4 linked regions of the Homo sapiens genome follow. The protein of the gene in region 1 interacts with the protein of each later gene in a pairwise test. Each region holds a gene or a part of one and is shown in the gene's direction. Other genes may lie near its edges.

What was found.
Region 2: the proteins of CLRN1 (region 1) and TMEM50B interact in binary tests that used the Homo sapiens proteins (3 or more experiments, as listed by UniProt).
Region 3: the proteins of CLRN1 (region 1) and FAM24B interact in binary tests that used the Homo sapiens proteins (3 or more experiments, as listed by UniProt).
Region 4: the proteins of CLRN1 (region 1) and TMPRSS4 interact in binary tests that used the Homo sapiens proteins (3 or more experiments, as listed by UniProt).

What each region holds. Positions count from the first base shown.
Region 1 is NC_000003.12:150,962,293-150,970,215, reverse strand, and holds part of CLRN1 (clarin-1), read left to right. Parts: intron 1-7,923. UniProt on the Homo sapiens protein: May have a role in the excitatory ribbon synapse junctions between hair cells and cochlear ganglion cells and presumably also in analogous synapses within the retina.
Region 2 is NC_000021.9:33,476,770-33,484,816, reverse strand, and holds the start of TMEM50B (transmembrane protein 50B), read left to right. Parts: upstream 1-4,842; 5' UTR 4,843-4,979; intron 4,980-8,047.
Region 3 is NC_000010.11:122,875,906-122,884,041, reverse strand, and holds the start of FAM24B (protein FAM24B precursor), read left to right. Parts: upstream 1-4,460; 5' UTR 4,461-4,557; intron 4,558-8,136.
Region 4 is NC_000011.10:118,114,570-118,122,492, forward strand, and holds the end of TMPRSS4 (transmembrane protease serine 4), read left to right. Parts: intron 1-259; coding exon 260-358; intron 359-568; coding exon 569-711; intron 712-2,735; coding exon 2,736-2,885; intron 2,886-3,332; coding exon 3,333-3,344; 3' UTR 3,345-7,321; downstream 7,322-7,923. UniProt on the Homo sapiens protein: Plasma membrane-anchored serine protease that directly induces processing of pro-uPA/PLAU into the active form through proteolytic activity.

The sequences.
Region 1 (7,923 bases):
ATAAGCCCTGTTCATATAAATGAATAAAAGATCTAACCTTACTTTCTCAGTAGTGGCTTCCTTGGAGCAAAAAGCAGGGACCTCCAGAGAGCTCAGGTGGATGACTCTTTTCTGTTTCTTCCAGAGCTCAACTTACAATTAGTGCACAATTCATTTCCCAGAATGTCTTCTTTCTTATTGTGCCTTTAGAAAGTTATTAAGCAAACATTTGAATTCACAGAATCTTACCAGTGTAAGAGGAATGGAAAAGGTAACTTATCAAGGTAACAATCACTTCGTGGCCAGTTTTTTCGGCTCACTGCAACTACCCCTCCTGGGTTCAAGCGATTCTCCTGCCTCAGCCTCCCAAGTAGCTGGGACTACAGGCGTGCACCACCATGCCCAGCTAATTTTTTTTTTGTATTTTTAGTAAAGACAGGGTTTCACCATGTGGGCCAGGCTGGTCTCATGGCAAGTTTTCTTTGTGTTGTCATGTTATTATCAATTAATAGGAATTTATATTTCAGTTCTGTTAGGTGGATAAACACTATTTTGCATACCTAAATGTTTCATTTATATCAGCACTGGCCAATAAAAATATACTATAAGCAGGCCGGGTGCAGTGGCTCACGCCTGTAATCCCAACTTTTGGGAGGCCAACACTTTGGGAGGACACAGGGTCAGGAGATCGAGACCATCCTGGCTAACCTGGTGAAATCCCGTCTCTACTAAAAATACAAAAAATTAGCCGGGCGTGGCGGGGGCGCCTGTAGTCCCAGCTACTTGGGAGGCTGAGGCAGGAGAATGGCACGAACCCGGGAGGTGGAGCTTGCAGTGAGCCGAGATCTCGCCACTGCACTCCAGCCTTGGTGACAGAGCAAGACTCTGTCTCAAAAAAAAAAAAAAAAAAAAAAAAAAAAAAATATATATATATATATATATATTACAAGCCACAAGCCACATATGTACTTTTAAATGTCCTAGTAGCCATATTAGAAAACAAAAGTAAAAAGGAATAGATGAAATTAATTTTAATGATTTTTTTAAACCCAAGATATCCAAAATATTATCATTTTAACATATAATTAAAAATTTATTGAGATGTTTTACATTGTTTTTTTTTTTCTTGACGCTGTCTTGGAAATCTAGAGTGTATTTTACATTTACATTACATCTAATTCAGTCTAGCCACATTTCACATGCTCATTTTTTTGTGTGTGGTTTTATGGAGCAGAGAGTTTAATAGGCAAGAAAGAAAAGAGAAGGCAGAAGAAAATGGCTCCCCTGTACAGAGACGCGGGGGTGGGGCGCTCCAAAGCCAAAAGAGGAGGTCCCTAAGTATGGTAGACACCAGCCAGGAATATATGCAGTGTCTGGAGGAGGGGATGTCTGATTTGCATAGGGTCACATGCTCATTTTTATGGCTACTGTATTGGTCAGTACAGATTTAGATGGGGATTTGCTCTGAACAAGTTGGTGATTGATGGTGTTCATATTTTAATTGAATTTTTCCTGGGTTCTGCTGTACACTTGTATGTGTGTTAGTTTCATGTGCAATGCTTGTGTCACTTTTAAAACCCAGATATATGGCATAACATGAGAATGAAAAATGGACCAGAAAAATAGTTTGGCAATGTAGTCATGTTTGTTCCTATTAAATGTTCCCTATTGACCACTCTATCTCTTTTAATTATAACAAGAATCTGCCCTGCCAGCATGCCCAGTTACGCTGGGAAAACTTCTGCCTCATTTACTCTGGCTGATTCTCATCCACTTATGGGTCAGTGGTTCATTTTCTAGAGGTCACCAGCATTCATACCTAGCATACAATTTCATTCATTATAATGAAGGAATGTTTTCCCTTCAAAGAGACACAACTAGTGGGCTTAATTTTTCTTGATATGTCACCTGTAAAATTTTAATGATGATGTTTAAACTCTAAATGTAGCCATCAAGACAAAAACTGCAAATTTTGAGCCTCAGTGTGTGTGGGTGGGTTTCTGTTTCGGTAATTTGAAACATTGCAGAATATCATCAAAATATGATACCCAAGAATCATATGGTATCAATCATTCCTAGATATACTGATCTATTCATTGCCAAGATAGTTCAATGAGCTGGCAAAAACATATGGAATTATTTTCTTAAAATGTGAAAAATAAAATTTAACCAATCATGTATCACAGCTTGCAACTTTAGTCATACTTTGAAAAGCATTTTAATTTGGACCTCATGATTGAAAATTTATAAAAAGCTGAACAGAAATTAGTTCACTTCATATTTTAGAAAAGCAGAGTTTCTTTACTAAATGAGGCATTTGACCCAAATTGGAGAGAAAATGTTGAAACTACTTCTGTGAGCAAGCAGGTGGCTTCTCAAACACATGTTGGGATGAAATGGTTGGGCCTCAGGGTCTCAGTGCCTGTCACTGAGAGTTGGCACTCTCTATCTCCATGGTCTCCTCCAAGTGTGACTCTTGTCTCTTGCTGACCTGACCTGCCCCAAGTGACTCACTGGTCATGACCCTGCACACCTTGCGTCTCTCCTATCACCCTGCCGATGGCAGAGCTACAAAGGTCTTTGATGTAGCTCTGTCTGATATCCTGTGTTTCCCCCTATGGTCTGTGTGGAAGCAGGTATGGGGGTGTGTAAAGGGGAAGCCTATGAAGTTCATCTGCAAAGACTACCTGGTTAGGGGAGGAGAGGAAGAAGCTATATGCACCATTTCACCAGCAAGCATGGGCTCTTCTGCCTTTTAGCTTAGGGGTCCTGTTGTCTAGTCTCACTCACCTATTAAAACAGTCCAGCAAATAGAGGTTTTGTTTACCTCCCATTAAAAAAAAAGCAATTAATGGAATAGAAGATAATAATGTATGAGAAGCACTATTGTGAAAGAAAAACCTTCAACTTCTCTCAGCCAAATAATTGCTTCCTCCTCTGTCCTTCCCAGACCTTGATGTTTGCTCTATTATTTCAAAACAACTATATTATAAATATTTGAGAATGTGTATTTCCCTGCAAGGAGATCTTAATCCCCAAGAAGGCAGGAGCTGTGTATTATTCATCCCAGTGCTCCTTCAAACCAGGGCCTCAGACAGTGCATGGCCCAAAGAGGTACTTAATAAACGTTTGGTAAACTGACACTATTGAAATTAAGCAACCTGGATTTGAGGTGGGTCTCTGCCACTCACAAGAGATTACGCTTTGAGAAAATTCCATCACTTCATTGATTTTCAGTTCTTGCATCTGTATATGGGAGACGATACTAGGTGATTTCTGACATCTCTCACCGTTTAAATGCTCTGTGATCTATACAACGAGGGGCTCGCTGTTCTAGACAAGTTCCTTCCAGCTTTACAGTTGCATAACCCTTCTAATCTTAGTCACATGATGACTCCACTGACAGATTTTTGGCCACCATCATTAGACATGCTGAGTTACGTGTGCCTTTGCTCTGATCCTCAAAACTCATGATTTTTAAAGTTTTCTGAAATATCTACCATTTATCAGGATCCAGATGGATTTCATGACCAAAGTGGATGTTTCTTTTCTCTCCCATTACAATCTTTTACTTTTTGTGTGGGAAATTGCATGTTAAAGAAAGGGAAATTGAAGAATGGGATGCTTTGGAATTCTGGCAAGATGGATTAGTGGGTTCCAGAAAGTAGGGGCAGCCACAAATACCGAAATAAATGAGATCGTATTATTGAGAAAGCACAAATGGAAGAAGGTCAAAAGCAAGAAGAAGCTGACATCCTGCTTCCTCCAATTTTTGCTTTCTCTGTTTTTCCAAGAAACTCCTCTTCCAAGCCTTGCTGAAAAACTCCACTTTCCTAAATCTAACTTCTTAAACTGATAATGGCAAGAAGTTAGGAATGACCAATATGTTTAACACTCCAAGAGTATTTGTTTTGTTTTGTTTTGAGACTGGGTCTCACTCTGTCGTCCAGCCTGGAGTGCAGTGGTGTGATCACAGCTCACTGCAGCCTTGACCTCTCCTGCCCAAGGAATCCTCCCACCTCAGCCTCCTGAGTAGAAGGGACCACAGGCATGTGCCACTACACCTGGCTAACTTTTAAAAAATTTTTTTGTAGAGATGGGGTTGCCCAGGCAGGTCTCAAACTGCTGGGCTCAAGCAATCCTCCTGCATTGGCCTCCCAAAGTGCTGGAATTATGGGCATAAGCCACTACGCCTGACCTCTCCAAGGGCATTCTTTACCCAGAAGAGGAACTTGGCAGAACTTATCCTCCAATTGGTGAGGAATATGGAGAAAATGACTTTAAGCAAAGGAACTTCTGGTTCTGCCTACCTAATCCAGAAAAAGAAGTTTTATTTCTCCCTTCCCCTAGTAACTATCTTCCCATATTCACATAAAAAAGTACAGAATCAACATTGTTCAAGAATTATAATTTTACTTGTAAGCACATGTGCACACGCACACCCATATACCTTCCTTCCCTTTAAATCATCCCACACCCTAATAGTAGTAAAATCATTGACCCGAGCATACCTGGGAGAGGAAGAGGAGTCTGACAGGGGCAGGTTCTAAGTGGCACTCCTGGAACTTAACCCTGGTGTATATGAACTTTACCTATTGAAGGATGACTCCTCAACTGTTCTCACAATTTGCTGCTCTGCTTTCTTTTCTAATTTCTGAAGGTGACTCATCTTCCCCAAGGACTTTCAGACTTCTCAGAAGAAAAAAATATTGGGTGGGTCTCTGCCACTGGCAAAAGATTAGACTTTGAGAATCATAAAAGTATATCAGTATATACTCATTAATATTGAATTACTATAATTAATATTATGATATTGATATAATGATAGAATGATATTGATAAAAGCAATATTCAATAATGAATATTATTTCAGCTGCCCACTTATTGGGTGCCTCATAGGTGCCAGGCATTTTGTATGTATTATCTACAACCCTTACATGGGACATATTATGATGCTGTTTCTCTTGAAGAAATATGGAAACTGGAAACAGAGAGGTCACCACAATTTTCCAAAGTCACATAGCTAATAGGTAGCAGACTTGGGATTCAAATTCATATGCATATGGTAAATCATGCTCTTCCTCTGCTACATTTTGCCCCCTTAGAATATGAAAAAGGGATACAAAGAGATGAAGAAAATATGTAAGATTATCCTTCAATTTCACTATCTTTTTTAAAGTTTTTTTTATTATACTTTAAATTCTGAAATACATGTGCAGAACATGCAGGTTTGTTACATAGGTATACACGTGCCATGATGGTTTGTTGCACCCATCAACCTGTCATCTACATTAGGTATTTTTCCTAATGCTATCCCTCCCCTAGTCCCCCACCCACCGACAAGCCCCGGTGTGTGATATTCCCCTCCCTGTGTCCATGTGTTCTCATTGTTCAACTCCCACTTATGAGTGAGAACATGCGGTGTTTGGTTTTCTGTTCCTGCGTCAGTTTGCTGAGAATGATGGTTTCCAGCTTCATTCATGTTCCTGCAAAAGGCATGAACTCATTTTATGGCTGCATACCATTCTATGGTATACATGTGCCACATTTTCTTAATCTAGTCTATCATTGATGGGCATTTGGCTTAGTTCCAAGTCCTTGCTATTGTGAACAGTGCTGCAATAAACATATGTGGGCATATGTCTTTATAGTAGAATGATTTATAATCCTTTGGGTATAGACCCAGTAATGGGATTGCTGGGTCAAATGGCATTTCTGGTTCTAGGTCCTTCAGGAATTGCCACACTGTCTTCCACAATAGCTGAACTAGTTTACACTCCCACCAACAGTGTAAAAGCGTTCCTATTTCTCCACATCCTCTCCAACATCTGTTGCTTCCTGACTTTTTAATGATTGCCATTCTAATTGGAGTGAGATGGTATCTCAGTGTGGTTTTGATTAGCATTTCTTTAATGACAAGTGATGATGAGCTTTTTTTCATGTTTGTTGGCCGTATAAATGTCTTCTTTTGAGAAGTGTCCGTTCATATCCTTTGCCCACTTTTTAACGGGGTTTTTTCTTGTAAATTTGTTTAACTTCCTTGTAGATTCTGGATATTAGTCCTTTGTCAGATGGGTAGATTGCAAAAATTTTCTTCCATTCTGCAGGTTGCCCGTTCACTCTGATAATAGTTTCTTTTGCTGCGCAGAAGTTTTTTTAGTTTAATTAGATCCCATTTGTCAATTTTGGCTTTTGTTGCCATTGCTTTTGGTGTTTAGTCATGAAGTCTTTGCCCACGCCTATGTCCTGAATGGTAATGCCTAGGTTTTCTTCTAGGATTTTTATGGTTTTAGGTCTTATGTTTAAATCTTTAATCCATCTTGAGTTAATTTTTGTATAAGGTATAAGGAAGGGGTCCAGTTTAGTTTTCTGCATATGGCTAGCCAGTTTTCCCAACACCATTTATTAAATAGGGAATCCTTTCCCCGTTGCTTGTTTTTGTCAGGTTTGTCAAAGAGCAGATGGTTGTAGATGTGTGGCATTATTTCTGAGGCCTCTGTTCTGTTTCATTGGTCTCTGTATCTGTTTTGATACAAGTACCATGCTGTTTTGGTTACTGTAGACTTGTAGTATAATTTGAAGTCAGGTAGCGTAATACCTCCAGTTTTGTTCTTTTTGCTTAGGATTGTCTTGACTATTCAGGCTCTTTTTTGGTTCCATATGAAATTTAAAGTAGTTTTTTCTAATTCTGTGAAGAAAGTCAATGGTAGCTTGATGGGAAAAGCATTGAATCTATAAGTTACTTTGGGCAGTATGGCCATTTTCATGATATTAATTCTTCCTATCCGTGAGCATGGAATGTTTTTCCATTTGTTTGTGTCCTTTCTTATTTCCTTGAGCAGTAGTTTGTAGTTCTCCTTGAAGAGGTCCATCACATCCCTTGTAAGTTGTATTCCTAGGTATTTTGTTCTCTTTGTAGCAATTGTGAATGGAAGTTCACTCATAAGTTTGCTCTCTGTTTGTCTGTTATTGGTGTATAGGAATGCTTGTGATTTTTGCACATTGATTTTGTATCCTGAGACTTTGCCGAAGTTGCTTATCAGCTTAAGGAGATTTTGGGCTGAGACGACAGGGTTTTCTAAATATACAATCATCTCATCTGCAAACAGAGACAATTTGACTTCCTCTCTTCCTATTTGAATACGCTTTATTTCTTTCTCTTGCCTGTTTGCCCTGGCCAGAACTTCCAATACTGTGTTGAATAGGAGTGTTCACCACCTATTTTAAGAATAGTATTGAAGCCTCACAAAAGCTGGTTCTCATGTAACCATCTGAGAATATTTGGCCTTATGACTTGAATTCATTCATTGCCTTTTTATTTCACATTTTAGTGATCCTGATGTCTAAATCTTAATCTTTGATCCTTGCAAGGTAAAATAGCCAAGTCAAGCCTGTTTAATAATATTGGTTGAGGAAGTCACATGCTTATGATCAATCTTTGGGTTATGTAATTATATTACCTTAATGTTGGCAGTTTAGGTGTAAGGCAGAGATATCTGATCACATGTGTGGTTAGCTAATTTAAGATCACTGCCAACTAAAATCTTCATGGTATGATCTTCAAAGTTAGCTACTTTGACCACAGCAATGATTTCACCACAGCAATTAACAAAATGGCAGACTCTTTCCTGAGGTGGCATGAACAGTTTTAAAACAAAGTCAAGGACCAAAAGAAAAGCAGGCACATGGCATTTGATTCATTTCAAAAACTAGTATTGTATTAAGAGCCAAGGGGATAGAATTGTAGCATCAATTAAAATCTTGTTTGAAAAAAAATAAAAACAAACGTCCATTTTTATCTCTCAAATATATTAGGGTTTTCATAAAGTTATAGGTGTATTTTTAAAAAAACAAAACTCATATACATTAGACTGAAAAATTTGCCTGTCATCTCATCATGCAGCTAAATGCAATTGTCTATGGCGAGATACACTCTTATTAGAG
Region 2 (8,047 bases), on another chromosome or scaffold:
CACGATCTTGGCTCACTGTAACCTCTGTACCCCGGGTTCAAACGATTCTCCTGCCTCAGCTTCCTGAGTAGCTGGGACTACAACCACCTGCCACCACACCTGGCTAATTTTTGTATTTTTAGTAGAGACAGAATTTCACCATGTTGGTCAGGCTGGTCTCGAACTCCTGACGTCGTGGTCCGCCCTCCTCGTCCTCCCAAAGTGTTGGGATTATAGGGGTGAGCCACCGCGCCCAGCTCAGGTAATGTTTTTATAGCAGTGTGAAAATGGACTAATATAGTACCCTGGCATAAGAGTTTTGAGGAGACATAATCATTCAGACCATAACACCCATGATAACTCTGATCCTCCAGTTCCATGAGCCACAGAATCCTACTCATTATTTAAGCCAGTTTGAGATGTTCTTTTCTGTTACTTATAACTGAAAGAGACCAACTGACAAATGTATACACTGTCTTCAGAGTCTAGATGTGGAAAGAAGTATTTCCTCTTCTGCTGGAGTCAAATTATCTTCCAGGCCTTGGTTTTTTGTTTCCCATCTAAAGATCAGTCTTTTCTCCTAAATGACTGACACTGAATAGCCATCCTTTCAGGAGAGAGTCCATTTCAGACCCACAGGAAGTATGACCTTAGTCTCAAGACACCTTTATCAAAATACAACAGTTCTAATAGCTGCCTAAGACTTATTCAGATGAATCTTTTTGTTATACAACCACATAAGCATATGGAGAAAGAGAATATTTTGGGAAGTACCTGTTTATGCAACATGTTTTAGCCTTTCAGATAGTTCCTGTGGTACACATTTGGCTTGTACACTCAAAAGATGGACGTGAATACCACTCTATCAGAGTAAGTTCATGAAGCAGCCCTGAGAGAGAATAAACTAGAACCCATGGGGCGTAGCGTGAAGGACAGCCTGGATTGTTCCTTTCTCTTAATAGGCTTGTACCAACTGGACTGCATTTTCTGTCTAGTTTTAGGTGAAGTAGATCTTTCAGAACCTGTCCTGGCCCAAACCTGAAAATGGTCCTGAAGTCACAATGTCTCCAGAATCTAGGAGTGCCTCTCTGAAGTGCTTGGGTAACAGGAATTTAACAAAACATATGCTTCAGTAGCTACATGGTAGAATACCAATTGAATTAGAAAATGTGTGGTTTTTTTTTTTTTTTTTTGAGACTTAGTCTCACTCTGTCGCCCAGGCTGGAGTGCAGTGGTGCAATCTCGGCTCACTGCAAGCTCTGACTCCCAGATTCAAGCGATTCTCCTGCTTCAGCCTCTTGAGTAGCTGCGATTACAGGTGAGCGCCACCATGCCTGGCTAATTTTTGTATTTTTAGTAGAGACGGGGTTTCACCATGTTTGCCAGGCTGGTCTCGAATGCCTGACCTCATGGTCTGTCCGCCTCGGCCTCCCAAAGTGCTGGGATTACAGGCTTGAGCCACCGCACCCGGCCATGTGTGGTTTTTTTTTTTAAAGGCTGATTTACAATTCTACTAAATACTTAAATCAGTACATTTGGAATTGACAGCGAAATGTTGACATCAGCAACTTAATCCCCGTATCTTTCAAATGCCTTTTTTTTTTTTTTTTTTGAGACGGAGTCTTGTTCTGTCGCCCAGGCTGGAGTGCAGTGGCGTGATCTTGGCTCACTGCAACCTCTGCCTCTCGGATTCAAGTGATTCTCCTGCCTCAGCCTCCTGAGTAGTTGGGATTACAGGCATGTATCACCATGCCCAGCTAATTGTTTTTTCTTTTTAGTTGAGACGGAATTTTACCATGTTGACCAGGCTGATCTGGAACTCCTGACCTCAGGTGATCCAACCGCCTCTGGTTCCCAAAGTGCTGGGATTACAGGTGTGAGGCACTGTGCTCGGCCAAATGCCCATATTTTTGAAAGCATAACTAAATACATGTTTGACTCTTTGTGGAATAGAGGTTTATAGACTGAGAGAAGCAAATTGTGCTATGGTTTGAATGTGTCCCCAAAAAGTTCATGTGTTTGAAACTTAATTACTATTGTAATCGTGTTGAGAGGTAGAACCTTGAAGATGTGATTGGGTCATGAGGGCTCCACCCTCACGAATGGATTAATGCTGTTATTGTGGGAGTGGGTTAGTTATCTTGGGATTGGGCTCTTGGTAAAAGGATAGCGTCAGCCTGATTTTCTCCTTCTGTCTTGTATGCTCGTTGGCCCCTGTCTGTCTTGTTTTCTACCATGGGATGACACAGCATGAAAATCCTTACAAGATGCCAGCACCATGCTCTTGGAGTTCCCGGCTTCCAGAACTGTGGACCAAATAAAACACTATTGTTTATAAATTGCCTGTTCTGTGTTATTCTGTTATAGCAGTAGAAAAGGACTTCAGACAAGCTGCATTAACATAAGTCTCCACTACTAAAAAAGCAACTTAAAGCATGTGCATCCCAACGGTAGGTGAACAGTAATGTCTTCCTTCATATATGGAGGTAATCATTTTTCTACAGATATTATTCTGTAACAAAGCTTAAAAAAATCCTGGGAAACCTTAAAATATTAGTACTTTAAAAAGCAATGGCCTGTCTGTGCCAGGGCAGCATGTGGTCCATGCTGATCGACAGAGACACTCAGGCTGTGCCCTCAGGATGACCGAGTGGGAGACAGCAGCACCAGCAGTGGCAGAGACCCCTTGACATCAAGCTCTCTGGGAAGTGGAGCACTGATGATATGCAGATCAATGGCATTTCCCTGCAGGATTACACTGCAGTGAAGGAGAAGTATGCCAAGTACCTGCCTCACAGTGCTGGGTGGTATGCAGCCAAATGCTTCCGCAAAGCTCAGTGCCCCATTGTGGAGCCCCTCACTAACTCCATGATGATGCACGGCTGCAACAACAGCAACAAGCTCATGATCATGTGCATCATCAAGCATGCCTTCGATTTCATCCACCTGCTCACAGGCGAGAACCCTCTCCAGGTCCTGGTGAACGCCATCATCAACAGTGGTCCCTGGGAGGACTCCACATGCATTGGGCGAGCAGGGACTGTGAGACAACAGGCTGTGGACATGTCCCCACTGCACTGTGTGAATCAGGTCGTCTGGCTGCTGTGCACAGGCACTCGTGAGGCTGCCTTCTGGAACATCAAGACCATTGCTGAGTGCCTGGCGGATGAGCTCATCAATGCCACCAAGGCCTCCTCCAGCTCCTATGCCATCAACAAGAAGGATGAGCTGGAGTGTGGGGACAAGTCCAACCGCTGATTTTCCTGGCTGCTGCCTAATAAACCAGTCTGCCCTTTGGGATGCCTCCCCCACCCCCCCAAAAAAAGTGATGAGATTTGGAAACTTCTAATTGTCCCCTAATATCTAGTTTTCCTTCCTTAGTACTGAAACCCCATTTTCCAGCCTTCTTTGCAATTTGGTGTAGTCAAGTGACTATTTTACTAGCAGAATGAAAACAAAAATGGTACATGCAACCCCCGCCCCTTTCAAAAGGTTCTTAAAGAGAGGAGAGTGTTCCCTTCTGTATCCTCTCTTCTGGTGGAATGCCAGCATTGTGACATATTTCAAAAGTAAATTATTCAGCACATATTTATTGAACACCTAGATCCTAGCCCATGTATAAGAGCTATAGGAGAACATTATCCAGGATGGCATTTTTGGTGATAATTCCATGATACAAAACCTTTTACTTCATTATGCCTCAAGTAAAATGCTTTTTAGATTTCCACTGATAATAACTCTACTTGGCTGGGCACAGTGGCCCACGCTTGTAATCCCAGCATTTTGGGAGGCAGAGGCGGGTGGATCACCTGAGGTCAGGAGTTCAGGATCAGCCAGGTGAAATCCCGTCTCTACTAAAAATACACAAATTAGCCAAGCATGGTGGTGCGCACCTGTAATCCCAGCTACTCGGAAGGCTGAGGTGGGAGGATTGATTGAGCGTGGGAGGTAAGAGGCTGCAGTGAGCCAAGATCACACCACTGCACTCCACCCTGGACAACAGAGCAAGACCCTGTCTCAAAACAAACAAACAAACCACCCAAAAAACAAAGCTCGACTTTCCCCCAAACAACTAAATGGTTATAGGCATTTCTGTAGGAAATTTAGACGGGGCTTCCAAACGCTGTTAAAGTTATGTTGAAAATCCAAGAGGCTGAAAGATATCTGACTATAAGAAAGACGAAAAAAAAAAAAAAAGACAAAAATCTACGTGAATAGACGGGAGAGCGCCGAGCGAAATCAGAAGACTAGTTGTATTGTGAGGATCACCTCGGGTAACCAGCACTCGCTGGGTAGCCCTGGTTTACTAACTTCAACTTTCTGGGGCTCCATTTCTGAATTGAGGGGATTAGAAAAAGGCATCTCTAAAGACCCTCCGTTCCCGAGAACCCTCCCGGAGCACCTTCCCTACTCTGGGCAGCTCGCAGACAGACAAGACTGATCGGCCATAGGCGAAGGGAAACCCTGGTCCCCCGGGTCTCGAGCTCCGTCCGCACGTAATCTCACGGTACTGCACTTCAAGTCAGCGTGCAGAAACGCAGCAGTGGGAGCCCGGCGGCGGCCGCCCACCGGCAGGGGACAGGAGAGGCCCGTCCCGCTCTGCCCGGAACCGTAGATAGCTGGGTCTGAACTCCGGCTCCGGGAGGCCTGCAGAGCAGCCCACCCCGTCCCTCGGAGCTCGCCCTGCCCCCGGCCGGCCACTTGCTGCACGCCGATTGGTCGCGAGGAGCGCCCGGCGTCCCGCTGCGCCCAGCCAACGCCCTCTCCCCGCCCCCTCGCGTCCCGCCCCGCCCCCGGCCGGCCACTTGCTGCGCTCCGATTGGTCGCTGCGGTGCACACGGCGCCTCGCCCCGCCTCACCGGCGCTCTATCCTCGCGTCTGCTCCCAGCTCCGGGCTCCCGGGGCTGAGGTGGAGCCGCGGGACGCCGGCAGGGTTGTGGCGCAGCAGTCTCCTTCCTGCGCGCGCGCCTGAAGTCGGCGTGGGCGTTTGAGGAAGCTGGGTGAGTCCTGTCTGTGGGTCTCCGGCGCCAGGCAACCGTAGAGGGCTCGCGCCCGCCGCCCGCGCGTAAGGAGGCTCCCTCGTCGGGCCCTGTCCGGCCCGGCCTTCTGGGGGCTGTGGGGCCGTCCAGCCGGGTTTTCCCTGCGTTCGGCGCCGGCCTGCAGACTCGGGCCCGCGGAGCCCCCGCCGCCCCTTCTTGCCCCTGCCCGCGTCCCTTCGGGCCGACCGTGACCGTGGCGCCGCCGCGACCCGCAAGCAGCCCGGGGAGGCTGCCCTGCCGCGCTGTCACGCCGTCAGGTTGCGTTCCTGGGGAGGGCTGGAGAGGCTCCATCTCGTGCCTTTCACCTTCTCGCGCGGCGGGCACGGAGGCGACGGTTTTCGGGACGCCCTGCTGCGGCCGCGACGCCCTCCCGAGGCCGGAGCGAGGGCCCCGGGGCGGCTCCAGCCCTTCTTCGCCCCTCCCGTTTGCCCCGAACCATTGCTAGGAGCCTGTGTTTTCTGCACTTTTCTGATTTCATTCTTACGAGAGTCAAGTACAGAGGCGGGAGGGGAAAGGGAAGGGGAACAACATTCTTTCGAGAATTATAAACCTTGAGCTCCGTTAAATAAGTAGCAGCAGAGCATTGTCACTGGAGCAGTGGTAGTCGCGGGTAGGACCGTTTCGGTTTTTAGCCAATAGGCTGGTTAAAGGTACTTAAAACAGTAAGTTGGAAGGTGCTGAAATTCTAAGGTAAATACGTGACCTTTCAAAACCAAAGCAGTGAGACGGGCTAGGCTGGGCTGCTCCCCGCTGCGCGTGCCTGGGTCGGGGGGTGCGGAGGGGCAGGGGGCGGAGGCCTCGGACGGGACGGGGTGGGAGGGAAGTGGCATCCGCATCGTCTTACATCGCGCTGTAAGACCCGATTTTCTCTTTTCGGAGGATCCCATCTCCCTTCTCAGACTCTTCATCCTACCTGCACTGTGGATCCCTTGACACTTCAGAGGCTCTGAACTCTCAGGCCGGTCACACTTTTTCATCATTTTGTTTCTTGTCTTTTAAACCTGCATGCATTTCAAACGTAGAGCAAACATTAAACTTTTTTTTTAAACTGAAGATAGTGGTGCAAGACTTTGTTATTGAAATGCAAACCAAAAGTTATCTTGAATATTTATCGCGCTGGAAAAGCAGGTTTAATTAGAGTGAGGTGGGGACGTATATTTCTTCTTCCGGAGACACAGCCTTCCCACTCACCACCCCAATCCCTCCTCTCTGTCAACTAGGGTTACAGCAGCCTTACACTGGCTAGTCTTTTCTGAATTCTGAATTCACTTCTGGGGGCCAAGGTAAAGAATTTATCGTATTTTATCCTCATTTTCCTTTTCTGTTTTTTTTGAGACAGAGTCTCCCTCGTTGACCAGGCTACAAGTACAGTGGCCCGATCTCTGCTCACTGCAGCCTGCACCTCTAGGGTTAAAGGGATTTTACAGCCTCAGCCTCCCGAGTAGCTGGGATCACAGGCGCCTGCCACCATGCCTGGCTAATTTTTATATTCTTAGTAGAGAGAGAGTTTCACCATGTTGGCCAGGCTGGTCTTGAACTCCTGACCTCAAGTGATCCGCTTGCCTCGGTCTCTGAAAGTACTGGGATTACAGGTGTGGGCACCGCGCCTGGCCTTTTAAAGTGTATTATTATTATTTTTAAATTTATTTATTTATTTATTTTTTGAGACAGAGTCTTGCTCTGTCTCCCAGGCTGGAGTGCAGTGGCAAGATCTCGGCTCACTGCAAGCTCCACGTCCTGGGTTCACGCCATTCTCCTGCCTCAGCCTCCCTAGTAGTTGGGACTACAGGCGCCCACCACCACGCCCGGCTAATTTTTTGTATTTTTAGTAAAGACGGGTTTTCACCGTGTTAGCCAGGATGGTCTCGATCTCCTGACCTCGTGATCCACCTGCCTCAGCCTCCCAAAGTGCTGGGATTACAGGCGTGAGCCACTGTGCCCGGCCTAAAGTTTATTTTTAACTTATGTATATATATATATAATTTTTGAGGCCGAGTTTTGCTCTTGTTGCCCAGGCTGGAGTGCAATGGCGCTATCGTGGCTCACTGCAACCTCCGCCTCCCAGGTTTAAACGATTCTCCTGTCTCAGCCTCCCAAGTAAACTGGGATTACAGGCGCCCGCCGCCACGCCCAGCTAATTTTTGTATTTTTAGTAGAGACTCGAACTCCTGACCTCAGGTAACCCCCCCCCGCCTCGGCCTCCCAAAGTGCTGGGATTACAGACGTGAGCCACCGTACCTAGCCCGTTTTACTTTTTAAATGATTAAAGTAACATTCAGGTTGTTTAAAACATTTAAACATGACAGAAGAATATCAAGTAAAATTCAGACAGCGCAGAGGTATGTCAAGTTAGAATTCCTTGTTTGTTCACTCTTTACATCCTCAATTCCATTCCCTAGGAGGGTATTATATTATAATATTGCTCGGCAACTGATGATAATATAAGGACACATTTCCTTCATAAGCACGTGGAGACCTACCTCATTTCCTCCCAACCCCACCCCTCACTTTGGAGACCGGGTCTCACTGTGTTGCCCAGGCTGGAGTGCAGTGGTTCCCTCACGGCTTGCTGCAGCCTTGGGCTCAAACGATCCTCCCACCTCAGCCTCCTGAGAAGCTGAGACTATAGGCGAGTGCCACCATGCCTAATTTTTGTAATTTTTGTAGAGACGGGTTTCTCATATTGCCCAGGCTGGTCTTGAATTCCTGAACTCAAGCCATCCACCTGCCTCAGCCTCTCAAAGTGCTGGGATTACAGGTGTGAGCCATCCTGCCCAGCCAACTTGCCTCATTTTCAGAATGTTGCATGGTATACCGTTGTTTGGATGTACCCTAATATACATTTTTTGGTTCCTTATTGATGGACATTTTGACTGTTTCTGGGTTTTAGCCATTAAAAGCTTTGCTTTATGAAAATCTTTTTGTCGTTCTAGGGTAAGTTTCAAGTAGATAATATAAACAGATGATTGTACTTTGATATAATTTTATTTCACAAGGAATCTTTTTAAACTTAAAGTTGTTTTTTTTTT
Region 3 (8,136 bases), on another chromosome or scaffold:
AAATCAATTACAAAATTTCAAAGAAAAAATTTACATCACTACATGTATTTATAAAAAGCCATTACTTATAATTTTTAATGGTATCTGGAAAGTCATCCATTTCTACTTACCCACTGCTGAAACCTAACCATATTAATCAATTGCTGAGCTCCAGGAGATAACTTTGACCCCATGGACTCCATTATGGTTTGGATCCTGTCTAGTTCTATTCTTGATTTTACAGCAGGAGAGCCTGTTGAATAATTTGCTGAAACTGCTCTCATGTGTATCACAACTTTACTGATGAACACACACTGTCTTTCACCAAAGGAGCGCAACTATTACAATACAAAGTTCAGGAAAATAAATAATAATATTAAACAATATTCACTATTTAAGGTCACTCCTTTGTATTATCAACAAGAGTAAAGTATTCAGGAAAACAAATATAAACTTTAAATATATTTTCAAGTTTTCCCTAATACAGTAATGGTCAGAGGTTTCAATTTATTATGAAACTCAGAAGAACAATTTATATAAGACAATGTCATTTTCAAACTAAAAAAATATACTAAATATATGAAAGAAGGTAAAATTAAAGTTTCATTTATTTAAGCAACTCAGAATAGACTATGCCAATCTGAGACTTTAACACACAGCTGCTTACTATAATATTCTTTAATACAAAATAAGGGTGTTCAGAAGCCCATCCAAAGTGTTTACTGAATTACTAAATATAAATGAGCCATTTAGAATTATAAGGCAGGGTCAAGATGGTCTCACGTAACCCACTGGTTTACACATTTAAAAAGATGAAGTTAGAGGTAATTTTCTAACTTGTCAAAGGATTACCCAATTAGTAAAAGTCAGGCTTAGAACCTAGCTCTCCTGGCTGTTATAACAGTGCCCTCTCCAATGCTTTATGCTGCCTCTCTTCATTCATGTTTATGAACCAAAAGACATTTCATGTGTGGCACCAAAAACAGTATCAAAATGGAAAGGAAACAGGATTTAGAATGAGATAAACCAGAGTTCAGTTATGAGTCTGCTCTGTATAGCCTGTATGATCCTGGACAAATGCCAAAACACAAATCAGAATTAACATGAGGGAGGATCATATCAGTGATTTCACATGGTGGTTGGGATTATGTGCTAAAATTTCCAATGAGTAAGTATTTGAAAATATTCATCAGTAACTATTTTTGTAACTTTCATATTCTGCTGCCTCAGAATAAGCTTTAGTAGGCTTGGGATTTTCCTAAATGAAATGACCCTTTGCACTCACATATACTTCCATAGAATAGTTACAAAAAATACTCATCTTCAGAGAGACACACAGAACCATATGTAACCCAAAGACACAGGTCAATTCAGACCCATGGCACCAAAGATGTGACCATCCTTCACAATTAAGAAAACACTGTTAAATTTAAACAGTCGCCTCTCATCCTCTCTCTTATCCCCTTTCTGCTTCTTAATCCTTATAGCCTTTCTCACCACCAAACAAAACACAATTTTATTCAGAGTGTGCTCATTACCTGTCTCATCCCATTTGAATATAAGCAACACAAGGGTAGTTGCTCCATTTTATTACTGCTGCTTCCTAAATGCCTACTACAGTCTGTATCTGGTATCAGTAGGCACTCAAATATTTGTTGAATAAATCACTTTATTTAAATGACTTTGGAAGCGATTAATATATACTACCTAAAACAATGTCTTGGAACAATCTGATCTGTAAGTTTGTTACTTGCCTGCTATAAAAATCATTAACTTTTTCCTTATTCTTTTTATTTTTTTCTCTTTTTTGAGACAGAGTCTCCTTATGCCACCCAGGCTGGTCTCAAACTCCTGGGCTCAAGGGATCACCCTGCCTCGGCCTCCCAAAGTGCTAGGATTACAGGCATGAGCCACCATGCCCGGCCAACTTTTTCCTTAAAGTAAGTCTCACAACCCTGTATAATGTGGAGACAAAAAGAATACAATGCTTTATTTTCTTTAGTCTTCTAATTTACCCATGAGGTAGGTCCAAAGAAATGTAGAGATTTTCCCAAGGTCACTCAGGCAGTAACTAACAGAACTGCATTAATACCTTGGGCTATTTGTAGCTCAGTACTCTTAACTCTGATGACATCACTAAAGTTCACCTCAACAATATTTTTCATATTCAGGGTACCAGTCCAAATAGCTTTTAGGTGCTTTTCTCTGCAACTTCTCTAATTCTTGTCTTTTTAAACATAATGGGGACAAAACGTGGTTTTCTTGGCACCATAGTTTCATATAAAGATAAACAAGGACTAAGTTGGACTAACTGTATGAACAAACCAACAGTACATAAGTATATTATACATACATTTGCAATTGTCAAATTAGTTAAAATTTAGTGATGACCTACCTTTATTTTACAGGCATGAGTGGAGGATGCCAATATTAAGTAATTTTTGTAGAAAATAATTTCGCGTTTACTGAAAATAGAATAAAAATTATTTTTTCACTTATATAAATTATCAGTTTAAACAGCTGCAGTAAAAAAAAATTGTTTCCAGGCCATTACTTAAATCCTGAGATTCAGTTTGCCTGGTAGGGGACAAACAGTTGAGATCCCTTCTCAAGTGACCTGGTCAATAACCCTGTGTCGTGTATTTATTATTTCCAATATGCACAATATGTAAAATAGTTGACGTTTTGATTTATATTAAGGCGCGATTAGTGTAGAATGTTCCTATAAGGGACTAGGGAAAAGATCAAACTATAACACATTGAATATGGACTAAATAGGCTGGTGTGGCACCACCTTGGGCTTGTAGGTTCCTTAAAAAATATGTGATCAAAGTTTCAGACTGACTGTCAAATTAATTTCTGGAAAACAGACCATTGTGAGTTTATGGAGAGAGTCAAGAAGCAGCAATAAGGACTGCACTCTTGCCTGGACACTTTAACTAGTATGACCCTCTCCAGGCTCACCTCTCCTTTATTAGCTCTAAATTTCTGCATTCCTAAAAATGAGGAAGCTGAACTAGATTGCCTAGAAGATGCTTTAATGGTCTAACCTTCTATGCCATAGTAGGTTTTTATCTTCTCTTCTCTAATGTAAACATCAATGTCAGAGAGTCAATCAATATTGCAAAAGGTGAACAGAATAAAGACACCAATTCAGGAGAACACTTTCCCGTGTACAAGTCACACAACTGTCATCCAAGACAGTACAAACATTCTTGCCCCTACTGGTTCCACAGTACTCCTCTCCTAAGTACACTTCCATATTTCTTGCTGAACTTAAAATGCCAATAGAAGCGATTTCTTCACCTCCATCAGGGCCACACCTCAGGTAAAGGAAGCAGGGGTTTTCATCTTGGTTGTTCAATCTTCTCTTCTAAATCACCAGATTCTGGCTGAGAAGAAAACAGGTGAAAACATCACACAGTATAGTTTCTGAACATGGCTCAAAACCCACTTGTTAGGCCATGAGGTTTATTCTAACAAATGCTCAACACAGAATTCATAAGGAAATGGAGGCATCACACATCAGGGCTTCCCCCTCTATTTTTTCCTCAATCATCAACGTTCTACTCAGTCCCCTGCAATTGATTCTCGGATACATTACTGGACACCTACTGTGTGCACAGGAGTAGGAGCAGAACACAATAGAAGACAAAGTGTATCTTTTTCGAAATTAAGTCGACGGCGGTCGTCTATAGCTGGACTTTTTACACAGCCTGTTTTGGTGGAGAGGAGGTGGCTTGTTTGAGGGTAGATGGGCGGACTGACTTTGATAGCAGCCCTGACGACCCGTCACGCCTGACGGGGACGTTTATGAAATTCCAAGTCCTGGTCACCTTCCCCCGCTCATGCCTCGGGGCCTCGGGTACTTCCCGGCCAGACCTACCCCGCCTCCGCCCACCCCGGTCCTCGCCTCCACCTCGCAGCCCCGCTCCCCCGCAGAGACCCGACACCAACTGCTCTCCTGGATCCCGGACTCAGACCCTCACGTTCCCCGAGGAGCGCGGCAGTCGCCGAGCGCAGCGACCCGGTCGCCGGCGGCCCGGCGCACCGTGGCGCAGGTGGCGCCAGAAGCTCCTCCCAGTCGAAGTCGCGGGCGCAGACACGAGCCCGGGTGAGGAGGCTGTGAGTTAGGGCCCCGCCTGCGGCATCCCAGGAAGAGGCAAGCGTGGGGCGGCGGGTGAGGCCCCCGTCCTCGGACCGCGTGTCCACTGCGCCGCCTCCTGCCAGGCCTCTCTTCCAGTGCTTAAGTGTCGGCCAGTGCAGCGCAGAAACGGGCAGGCAGAGCGACTCCCGGCTTACATCATTTCAAATGCCCGCCGCTTCTGGATTTGGTGAGAACCTGCACCAGAGAAACGCATGCGCATAAGCCAACTGGACTCGAGAGGCGTTCAAACTTTGCTCAGGAAGCGCTAAAGAGCGGAGCATGCGCACTGGCAGGCCCTCGCTCAGCCTTTGGAGACCATGCGCAGGCGCGGTGCACTGTGCGCGGGCACCACGGCGGTTTTTCGACGCTGGCGGTGGACGCAGGCAGCATGGACCACGGTTGCTGGGCGGATGGGGAGCGTCTATGGTCAGGTAGGTGTCGTCTCTTCGCTCTACGCGATGTGCAGGACCGACTCCTGACCTCGTTCTTTCCCGAGTGGACGCCAGGGCCTTTTCTGCCTCCACTCCGTCGGGTCTGCAGCATTTGTGGCAGCGAACGCGGCGGAAGCGCTGTCCATTCGGGTTAATTTTACTCCGAACTCTCCCTGCCTCTCTCATACACATTCTCGCGTTAGAGGGGAGTTGAGGTAGATATTGAACGGCGTTAGTGGTGGACGCTGGGCCACACGGGCCTTCCCCAGGTGCCATCTCATTTGATGCTCCCTGATCCTACGGCGTTGCCAGGACTATGCTGGATGCCCTCGTGACAGAAATCAGAAGGTTGAGAAAGATCCCAGGTGTTTGGATGGAGCGGTCGCCTGAGGGAGTTTTCCAGATGCCCCATGGAATAGGAAGTAGATCTTGCCTCTTTCTTCCTTTTGTACTCCAGATGCATTCTAAGTTGTGTACACCAGACTTCCTGTTCTTTATGCCCAGCCCATTGTAGTCATAAGTTAACTTTGATACATGTCATCATAATTGGACAGTCTAAAGGAAAATAGGCTTTTTAGAATTACCTATCTGAAACTTCATGAGCAAGATCAATACTATAAGCTGGATTTTGACTTCCTTAAATAAGGCAGAAAGCCTACAGCATTTTGTCGTCTCCCCTTTCTTTCAATCTCGTATGTTCAGTATTATCACCCAGTCTTGTTTTATTTTTGGTTTTTAAAGAAAAACTTCCCTGTCTTTCTCCATCTCTGCCTCTCTGTTTTGAAATACTAGCTTTCATCGGAACAATTCCAGGAGTTTCTTTACTGGTTGATAGTCATTATCTCCTCACCTGCGTTTCATTTTCTGCACTGCCCTCTAATCTTTTATCAATTGTCCTGATGCTTGATGCTTTCTGACTGAATCACCATCACCATTACTTTTTTTTTTCTTTTGAGATGGAGTTTCAGTCTGTCACCCAGGCTGGAGTACAGTGGTGTGATCTCGGCTCCTGCAACTTCCGCCTCTTGGGTTCAAGCGATTCTCCTGCCTCAGCCTTCTGAGTAGCTGGGACTACAGGCGTGCACCACCAGGCCCAGCTAATTTTTGTATTTTTAGGAGAGACAGGGTTTTGCCATGTTGGCCAGGCTGGTCTCAAACTCCTGGCTTCAAGTGATCCGCCCGCCTCGGCTCCCAAAAGTGCTGGGATTACAAGCGTGAGCCACCGCACCTGGCCACCATTACTTCTTAACAGGCATACAAAGCCCTTTATCCTTGACTTCTGCCTGCCTCCTAGACCCCCCAGCTTTTGTACATGCTTTTCCCTCTACCTAGAATGCCCCTTCTTTTGGATAGGAAAAATCCTGTTCATCATTTAGTGCCAAGCACAGCCCTCCACACTGTGAGAGAATTTGTCAGTAATTTCTCTCTGCTACACTTAGAGTTTTTAGATACTATAATTCTCTTCTGGTATGGAGCTTTACCAAATAATTCTCACATTTGTTTTCCCAACCATCTGTACAGTTGTTGAAAATAGGAATTGTTTTGTGCCTAGTAGAGATTGAGTATAGGTTTGTTGTATGGAATTGATAGAGATAGCAATAGGGGTTGTTTGGGAACTCTATCACAGTATAACAGGAGTAGAAAGAGGTGAAACTGGCAAATTCAATCTTATTTTCAAAGCTGAAAAAACTTTGCAAAAGTTAGTGAGAAAATTATGACAGTGAAAGAGATCTGAGCTAATCCATCCCCAGTCTTGCCTTGATTATTCTTGGGCTTTTGGGACATTTAGGCTATAGTTTAAATTATCATAGGCCTTCCCCCAAACTCAACTGCTTTTGCATCAGGCTGGCAGGAGGAGAGGAGCCTGGGTCCTGCTAAGGTGCAGACATGAACTATTATCAGTTATTATTCAGAAGGTTATAAGATATGCAACTTCCCCAATTATTCCTGCAGATAACACCACTATTGTAGACTGGCCTTTTGAGATATCTTTTCAGGGTTTTTTTGCATGTCTGACACCCACCATTCCTACAGCCCCACCCAGAAGTGACTCAATGTGCAAGAGGACAGCTTCACCCCTTGTGATTTCATCTCTGCCCCAACTAATCAGCAGCAAGCCTAGCGACCTCCACCACTTCCCCCAAACTGCCTCTGAAAAATCCCTAACCTATAAGCTTTGGATGAGAATTGTGGCTGGCCTTATGTCTATTAAACTCTTTCTTTACTACAATGCCATGATCTTTGTGTAGCAGGCAGGAAGAACCCTTCAGATGGTTACAAAGCCAGGGTGTTGTGCTGGTGCCTAGGTGACCTCAATTTTAATGTAAATTACTCTTGTCGTGAATGGCAAATGGTATTTTTTGCTTTATTTTTATTTTTTCACTTGAAATAAAGAATAAGGCATATCTTTGAAATCTTTCCACCAATATCACAATGTATTTTTTTGGCTTGACTGTTTTAAAGAGAAGTTTATTATATATAACTTGTAGAATTTAGAGTAGAATCATATATGTATCTACTGTTGCTAACAGAGTGCCTTTGCATAGTGGCAATCAAACACTTTAGTCCCAGGACCTTTTACCCTCAAAATATTGAATATTCTAGAAAGCTTTTGTTTTTGTGTGCTCTTTTCTTATTTTTTAACACTTCTGGTTTCATCTGTGACACGTAAACCACTTAGAAGTCAATCACAACTGTCCTCACAAGAAAAAAGCTGAACAAATGGAACATTAACAGCCTTTAAAATATCCATCAGATAATGGAGGTCACAAAGCAAATGGCCACCCCCAAACTGGGTAGGCAAATACAGAAAATCACAACTGATATCAGCATGCTAGGAACAGAAATCCTCATGAGGCAGCAAATGGTAGGAACACTTAAAATGGTCATTGATGACTTGCTGGATGCTGAGTGTGAGTTAGCTTGACAGTTAGAAACTCCTGGGAGACCACTCATATGGTGCCCTTACACTTTTGGGAGTTTTACTTTTCAGAGCTGCAGCAGATTCTTAGGACAAGGATTGGATTAAAACTCCCTCCTGCTTTGTGCAGAAGGAGGGGGCAAAGTAACCTTTTTGAAAACTGCCCTCAGCATTTCCCTAACAAAAGCCTTCTCTCAAGGGAAAGTACTTTACCAGAGCCTTATCTGTTCTAGGGAAAGGGCAATTAGAAGATTCCAGCCCCCTCTAGCCTTCCCGTTGTTAGTGGTAGTGAATCTGCAGGGGGCTGCAGCAACCTCAATTCTTGTCAGAAGAAAGAATTCGACCAAGGGTCATAAGGAAGAGTGAGAGACCAAGGCAAGTTTTAGGGCAAAAGGAAAAATTTATTTAAAAGCTTTAGAGGTGGAACAAAAGGAAGTAAAAGTACACTTGGAAGAGGGCCAAGCAAGCGCCTTGAGAGATCAAGTGCGTGGTTGGACCTTTGATTTTGGGTCTTACATGTTGACATGCTTCCAGGGTTGCATTATTTCTTGCTAATTCTTCCCTCAGGGTGGGCTGTCTGCATGCTCAGTGGCGTGCCAGCACTAGGGCGGGGCTGTATGCATAGTGTGTTTACTGGAGTTGTATGCATGCTCACTTGA
Region 4 (7,923 bases), on another chromosome or scaffold:
GGTGATTTAGGGCAGGGAAAATATTGGCTTGGTGTCTGAGAGTCAGATAAAGGAAGTGGTTGGGGATATGGGCTTTGGGTTGGCTGGTTTGCCTATTAAAGGCGTGCCCAAAGCCAAGTTGTTTACTATCTGCAGGAATTAGCTAACCCAGTCTCTCCCAGACCAGCAAGATCCCCATAATCATAAAGCATCATAATTTACAGAAAATTAACACTTATGATGAATAAAAGATCTCCTTCTTCCTCTGTGCTCCTGGCAGGCACAGTCAGGCCCATCTGTCTGCCCTTCTTTGATGAGGAGCTCACTCCAGCCACCCCACTCTGGATCATTGGATGGGGCTTTACGAAGCAGAATGGAGGTAAGTCCTGGGTGCAGGACCACAGGGCAGGAGATGCCCTTGTATGAGGGAGCAGCTTCCAGAAGTAATGGGAAGGAGGACCACCCTTCAGAGAAACCCATCCTGGAGGACCAAGCACCAAGGCGCCAGGCAGAAAGCAAAGTGGTTTGGCAATCCAGGGCTGGGGGATAGAAGGCAAGGATGGGAATGTGAGTGTTTTTACCCTCCCAGGGAAGATGTCTGACATACTGCTGCAGGCGTCAGTCCAGGTCATTGACAGCACACGGTGCAATGCAGACGATGCGTACCAGGGGGAAGTCACCGAGAAGATGATGTGTGCAGGCATCCCGGAAGGGGGTGTGGACACCTGCCAGGTGGGGCCTCCAAGAATCATGGGGAGTTCTAAGAATAGGGTTTAGGTCCTAGAGAGATGAGAAAACCCAGAGGCTGCATGCCCTACAGGAAGCCTTGCATATCATGGGCACTCAATGTGTGATGATGGGAGGAAGAGAGGGAGGGAAGGAAAGGATAGTCAGATAAAAGTGTACCAATAGATGAGTGGGTGGATGGATGGATGCAGACAAGCAGAGAGATTTCAAATGTCTCTTTCACATTCGAAGATGATGTTACTGGCCTGGCATGGTGGCTCACGCTTGTAATCCCAGCACTTTGGGAGGCTGAGGCGGGCAGGTGATTTGAGGTCAGGAATTCAAGACCAGCCTGGCCAACATGGTGAAATCCCATCTCTACTAAAAAGAATACAAAAATTAGCTGGGCGTGGTGGCACGTGCCTGTAATCCCAGCTACTTGGGAGGCTGAGGCAGGAGAATTGCTTGAACCCAGGAGGCAGAGGTTGCAGTAAGCTGAGATTGCGCCACTGCACTCCAGCCTGGGTGACCCAGCAAGACTCCATCTGAAAACAACAACAACAACAAAGATGACATTACTCATCCACCCCACCCACCCTTCTCACTAGCTACAGAATGATTAGCCCCTTGAGGTCAGGAATCCCAGGTCTATTTTCTCTGTGACTCTCCCCAAGCTGCTGAACTACACTAGGAAAGAATTACCGCCTGCAGAATGCTGGAAGCACATCTGTGTGTGCCCTCACCCCGGCCTCATTGGCCATCAGGACTGCTTAGCAATCCCTGTAGACCTTCTTCCTCCCCCATACTTCCAGAGGATCTTCTGAACTATTTTCTTTTTTTATTTTTTCTTTTATGTTTTTTAACAGAGACAGGGTCACTATGTTGCCCAGTCTGGTCTCAAACTCCTGGGTTCAAGGGATTCTCCCACCTCAGCTTTCCAAAATGCTGGGATTACAGGCATGAGCCATCGTGCTTGGCCTGAACCATTTTCATTAAAACCCCTACCCTACTCTCACCTCCATTTCCAGTCATTAAATTCCTTCATTTAAGAGGCATCTCTTAGTCATCGCATGTGTGCCATGAACATGGTAGTCTTTGGAGACCCCTCAGGGAGCTCACAGTGGTTGGGGGAAAGGGGGGCATTAAACAGACATTTAAGCTATAGTTTTGGGTTCAGAGGGAGGAAGCCCCAGGGGCTAAAACAGCTGATAAGGACTCCCAGATAAGTGCACTTTTCACTATCTGGCATTTTCTTGTTTTGTTATTTGCTTGTTCACTGTCTCTCACCCCATTTGATCCTAAGCTTTCTGAGGGCAGGGATCTTTGTTTTTTTTCATCAGTTGGATCCCAATTGCTTAGAACACTACCTGGCACAAAATAGGCACTCTATAAGTGATTACACAAATTTTGGAACGACTAGGTTAAACAATGATAACCAGGCTTTTTTTTTTTTTTTTGAGACTGAGTCTCACTCTGTTGCCCAGGCTAGAGTGAAGTGGTTTGATCTCGGCTCACTGCAGCCTCCGCCTCTGGGTTCGAATGATTCTCCACCTCAGCCTCCTGAGTAGCTGGGATTACAGGTGCCTGCCACTATGCCCAGCTAATTTTTGTATTTGTAGTAGAGACGGGTTTCACCATGTTGGCCAGGCTGGTCTTGAACTCCTGACCTCAAGTGATTCACCCGCCTCAGCCTCCCAAGGTGCTGGGATTACAGGTGTGAGCCACCGCTCCTGGCCAACAACCAGGCTTTTTTAAGACATCACTCAGAGCCTTTAATTTGCTAATGTGAGTTGTGAATCTCTGAGAGAAGGCTAACGGCATGCTTGCAACTTACTTGTCCACAGACAAGCCTTTCTGCCCCAGAAGAGAAGACCATTCTAGGGTGCTAATGAGCAAAGAGGGTGAGGGTGGAATATCGGAGAGCAGCAGGGAGTGCAGGGGAACAGATAGGCCAGTTCAGGGAGCAGAGAAGGAGAAGCCCCCCCACCTCACCTGCCCTCCCCAGCAGTCTCTGTTCTGGTCTCTCACAGGGTGACAGTGGTGGGCCCCTGATGTACCAATCTGACCAGTGGCATGTGGTGGGCATCGTTAGTTGGGGCTATGGCTGCGGGGGCCCGAGCACCCCAGGAGTATACACCAAGGTCTCAGCCTATCTCAACTGGATCTACAATGTCTGGAAGGTAAGGTACCTTTGCCCTACCCACTGTGCCTTCCCTCCAGTCCTCTACCTGGGGGGTGCCAATCCATCCTCAGGTTTGATTTAAATGGTTCTGACAACTCTTTACATCCCAAATAACTTTCCCTCCAAGCAAGGGACAGCCTGAGATTGCACTATTAAGGCTGAAATTCCTTAGGTCAGAGATTTCTGATAAATGCAAATACCTTAGGGAATAGAACACACCAAGCCTTTCTTTCTCTTTTCTGACAGAATGAGACTATCAGATCCTTTCTAGAGAGAAGATTCTGATAAGGAAGAGAGTGGAAAGGCTCATGAGACCTCCTGGCCCTCTGCAGGGTAGGGAGAGAAGCAAAGTGTTTCAGAAAAGGAAGACTCACGTTACACATGTCACCACTTTGTCCAGTTTCAGATAATCTGACTTTCTCTTCATCGGTCTCTCTTATTCTAGGCTGAGCTGTAATGCTGCTGCCCCTTTGCAGTGCTGGGAGCCGCTTCCTTCCTGCCCTGCCCACCTGGGGATCCCCCAAAGTCAGACACAGAGCAAGAGTCCCCTTGGGTACACCCCTCTGCCCACAGCCTCAGCATTTCTTGGAGCAGCAAAGGGCCTCAATTCCTATAAGAGACCCTCGCAGCCCAGAGGCGCCCAGAGGAAGTCAGCAGCCCTAGCTCGGCCACACTTGGTGCTCCCAGCATCCCAGGGAGAGACACAGCCCACTGAACAAGGTCTCAGGGGTATTGCTAAGCCAAGAAGGAACTTTCCCACACTACTGAATGGAAGCAGGCTGTCTTGTAAAAGCCCAGATCACTGTGGGCTGGAGAGGAGAAGGAAAGGGTCTGCGCCAGCCCTGTCCGTCTTCACCCATCCCCAAGCCTACTAGAGCAAGAAACCAGTTGTAATATAAAATGCACTGCCCTACTGTTGGTATGACTACCGTTACCTACTGTTGTCATTGTTATTACAGCTATGGCCACTATTATTAAAGAGCTGTGTAACATCTCTGGCATAGGCTAGCTGGAATGCTTGATAAGAACTGAGCTGGGATGATTGAACTTTCATTCTTTGGCTTGGGGAGAAAAGAAGTCCTGGGGAAGCAATTGAGTCTCAAAGTAGAGGCAGGGGAAAAAAGAGTTAGGGAGACCAGATCTGCTGAGTGGCAGCAAGAGTGAGCTGCAGATTACAGAAACCAGGGTGAGCAAGTTTGAGTCCCACACAGGGCCTTCTCCCTTTGCCTCTTTCCCTCCCTCCCTGCCTGTGATAATCAGCCAGGAGCCAGGGATAACCTATGACTTGGGAAAGAGATGAGTTAGGCAGTCAAGGGTGACATTCAATCAGGGATCCACAAGTGGCTGGAAAGAAATGCTGGTCCTGTGTCCTAACTTTTTCCGCCTGGAGAGCCCTCAGTGTGGCTTCTTACATTTAAAAAACAAAAAGGATCAGCTGCCAGGTGTGAGGCAGTCCCCAAGCTGAGTTGTGAGGATGTAAGCATGAATAAGTCCCTGCACTCAAAATGGTCAAAGAATTAAACCCCATGGACTTTTTTGGCATCTGTATGAAAGCTTGGGTTTTCTGAGGACTGTCTTGCTATAGTTAAGTCAGATCCTAGATGAAATATACTTGTTCATACTGTACTAGGTTCTTAGGAAACAACAGAATTCCTCAAATGCCAAAAACAAAGAAAATAGAAACCCAGAAAACAAAACAAAATAAAACAAAACCATCAGAACTGTGAGTGGAAACTAAGGTGATGATCTGGGAGCAATACACTAAAATCTTGGGTCGAGACCTATATGAAGGCTGGCAGTGGAGCTAAACCTGGACACACTGAAGACAAGGGAGCTGAACCAGGGCTCCTACATGAAGCAGGGATAACTGATGGCAGTAAATGTGGTCTCAAATTGCAGATGGTCTGGAGGAAAATTTCCCAAATTTAGAGCCTCAGGATTCCCAAAGATCCTCCAAATATGAGCTCACAATCAAAGATCAGAGACGTTGAAAAATAAAAAACACCTTAAGTGGGCAGCATAAAAAACAGCTAATTTAGAACCCCAAAGGCTTCAGATGTCAGAATATTAGAGACTTATGATAATAAGCAATATTTGCAGAGTATTTGTATGTGCCAGACACTATTGTAAGTGCTTCATCATGTACTGATTCATTTAATACTCACAGAAATCTGTGAGATGGGTATTATTCTTATCCTCACTCTATGGATTAAAAAAACTAAGGCACAAAGTGGTTAAGCTCCTTGCCTGAGATTATAGACTGTAAGTTGAACGTGAGCACTTGGAATACAGAGTTCATGCTGTAAACTACCACACTATAGGGCCTCCAATATGATAATTTATAAAATATTTGAATAAAAAATGAATACTAGTTCCACATTTTAAAATCATGTTTAACTGTGGTCAAATGCACATAACACAAGTTGCCATCTTCACCATTTTTAGGTGTATAGTTCAGTGGTGTTATGTACATTCACACTATTGTGCAGTCATCACCACCATCCATCTCCAGAACAGAAACTCAGTACCCATCAAACAACTCTCCATTTCCCCCTCCTCCCAATCTCTGGCAACCACCATTGTGCTTTCAGTCTCTGTGAACTGGATTACTCTGGGTACCTCATTTAAGTGAAGTCATGCAGTATTGGTCTTTTTGTACTTGTTTTATTTCACTTCACATTGTGTCTTCAAGTTTCACCCATGTTGTAGCATGTGTCAGAATTTCTTCCCTTTTTAGACTAAATAATATTCTATTGTTTATACGAACATTCAGGTTACTTCTATCTTTTGGCTATTGTGAATTATGCTGCTGTGAACATGGGTGTACAAGTATCTCTTTGAGGCCCTGCTTTCAATTCTCTTGGGTATATTCCCAGAAGTGGAATTGCTGGATCATATGGTAATTCTATTTTGAATTTTTTGAGGAACTGATATATTGCTTTCCATAGAGACTGCACCATTTTACATTCCCATCAACAGTTTGCAGGAGTTACTATTTCTCCATATCCCCCCTAACACTTGCTATTTTCTGTTAAAAATGGATATCTTAATAATCAAGCAAAAATAACAGGCAGATTTGAAAAAGAACTGAATACAGCTTTTAGAAATAAAAACTATAATTATAAAAATAAAAAACTAAGTGGATGGGGTAAATAACAATTAAAACACCAATTAAGAGAGAACAAATGAACTGGAAGATAAATTGAAGAAGTGACTAGGCTTAACAGCAGAGAGAGATAAGGAGATTAAAAATATGAAAACAAGGCCAGGAGCAATGAAGCCTAGAATGGTAAATTCTAACATATCCAGAATCCCAGAAAGAGAGAATCAAGACAATGAGAGAGAGACAGTACCAAAGAGATAAGAGCTGAGAATGTTCCAGAATTGATAAAAGGTGTGAATCCACAGAACATACACCACCATAGTGTACACGCATACAACCAAGGTGGAAAAATTAGAATAAATCCACACCTATGTACATTATAATGAAACTGCAGAACACCAAAGACAAAAAGAAACTCCTTATAGCAGCAGAGAGAAAACCCAGACCACCCACAGTACCACAAATCTACCACAATTAGACTGACAACAGGCTTTCCCACAGCAATAAAGGAGCTAGAAGTCAGTGGAAGTATATCTCCAGCATGCCAAAAGATAACAATCAATCAGGGATTGTGAACCCTACAAAACTATCTTTCAAGAATAAAGGCATTTTCAAGAAAACAAAAACAGACTTTACCATCAACAAACCTTCTCTAAAAGAATATATAAAGCATTTACTTTAGGAAGAAGGAAAATGATCCTAAAAGGAAGAACCAAGAAGCAAGTAGCAATAGTGAGGCAATTGTGAAAATGTAGGTAAGTCTAAACACACTCTGTCTACTTCTTCTTCTTCTTCTTCTTCTTCTTCTTCTTATTTTGAGACTGAGTCTTGCCCTGTCACCCAGACTGGAGTGCAGTGGCAGGATCTTGGCTCACTGCTATCTCCACCTCCCAGGTTCAAGTGATTCTTCTGCCTCAGCCTCCCGAGTAGCTGGGATTACATGCACATGCCACCATATCCGGCTAATTTTTGAATTTTTAGTAGAGATGGGGTTTCACTGTGTTGGCCAGGCCGGTCTCAAACTCCCGACCTCAAGTGATCCCCCCGCCTCGGCCTCCCAAAGTGCTGGGATTACAGGCGTGTCTACATATTATTAAAATAACAATAATATTTATTTTGTGGGTTAATTTTTTTTGAAACAGATATTGAATTTATTGGTTGGCTATGAGTAGAAAAATACATCAGTAAAGAAAAAAGACCCTGTATATAAATATAATACTAGCTAGTTAAAATTTGACCAAGAAGTTTCCATTGTGGGTTAATTTTTAAAGGCCTAACTGAAATATGGAGTAACCACAGCATGCAGCATGTAAATTAAAGGGGATAGCTGGAGTTAAAATATTCTGAAGTTCTTAAATTGTCCAAAAGGAGGGTTAAATATTAATGTTATGTTACATAAAATGTTTGTACTATGTTCTAGATGGTTAGTTAAAAGAGTAATCACCAAAAGAATGGAAATAAAAGTGTGTCACTTCCAAAACAATTGAAAGTAGCAATTGATGAATAAAAAACAAATACATCAAGCAAGTACAAAAGAGAAAGGAGGGAAAGGAAGAGCACTAAGGAGGGAAAAGCACAGAAAAATGGAACAAATAGAATATACAAAGTAGGATAGTGAAAAAAGTACTAATAATCGCAATAAATATTAAACTCACCAAATAATATACAGAGATAGGCAAATTGGATAAAAATGTAAGATCAAGCTATATGTTATTTGTAACAGACATACACAAAACACCAGGTTACAGAACCATTAAAACTGAAAAAGTGGAGAAAGGTACAGACAGCAAGCATTTAATCAAATTTAAGCTGGGGTAGCTATATAATATTTTTCTAAATAAGGATTTAGGACAAAAAGACAAAACTGACTTTAGGATAAAGAGGGTCACTACATAATCACGAAAGTTTCAATTCACCAGTAAGCTATAATAAG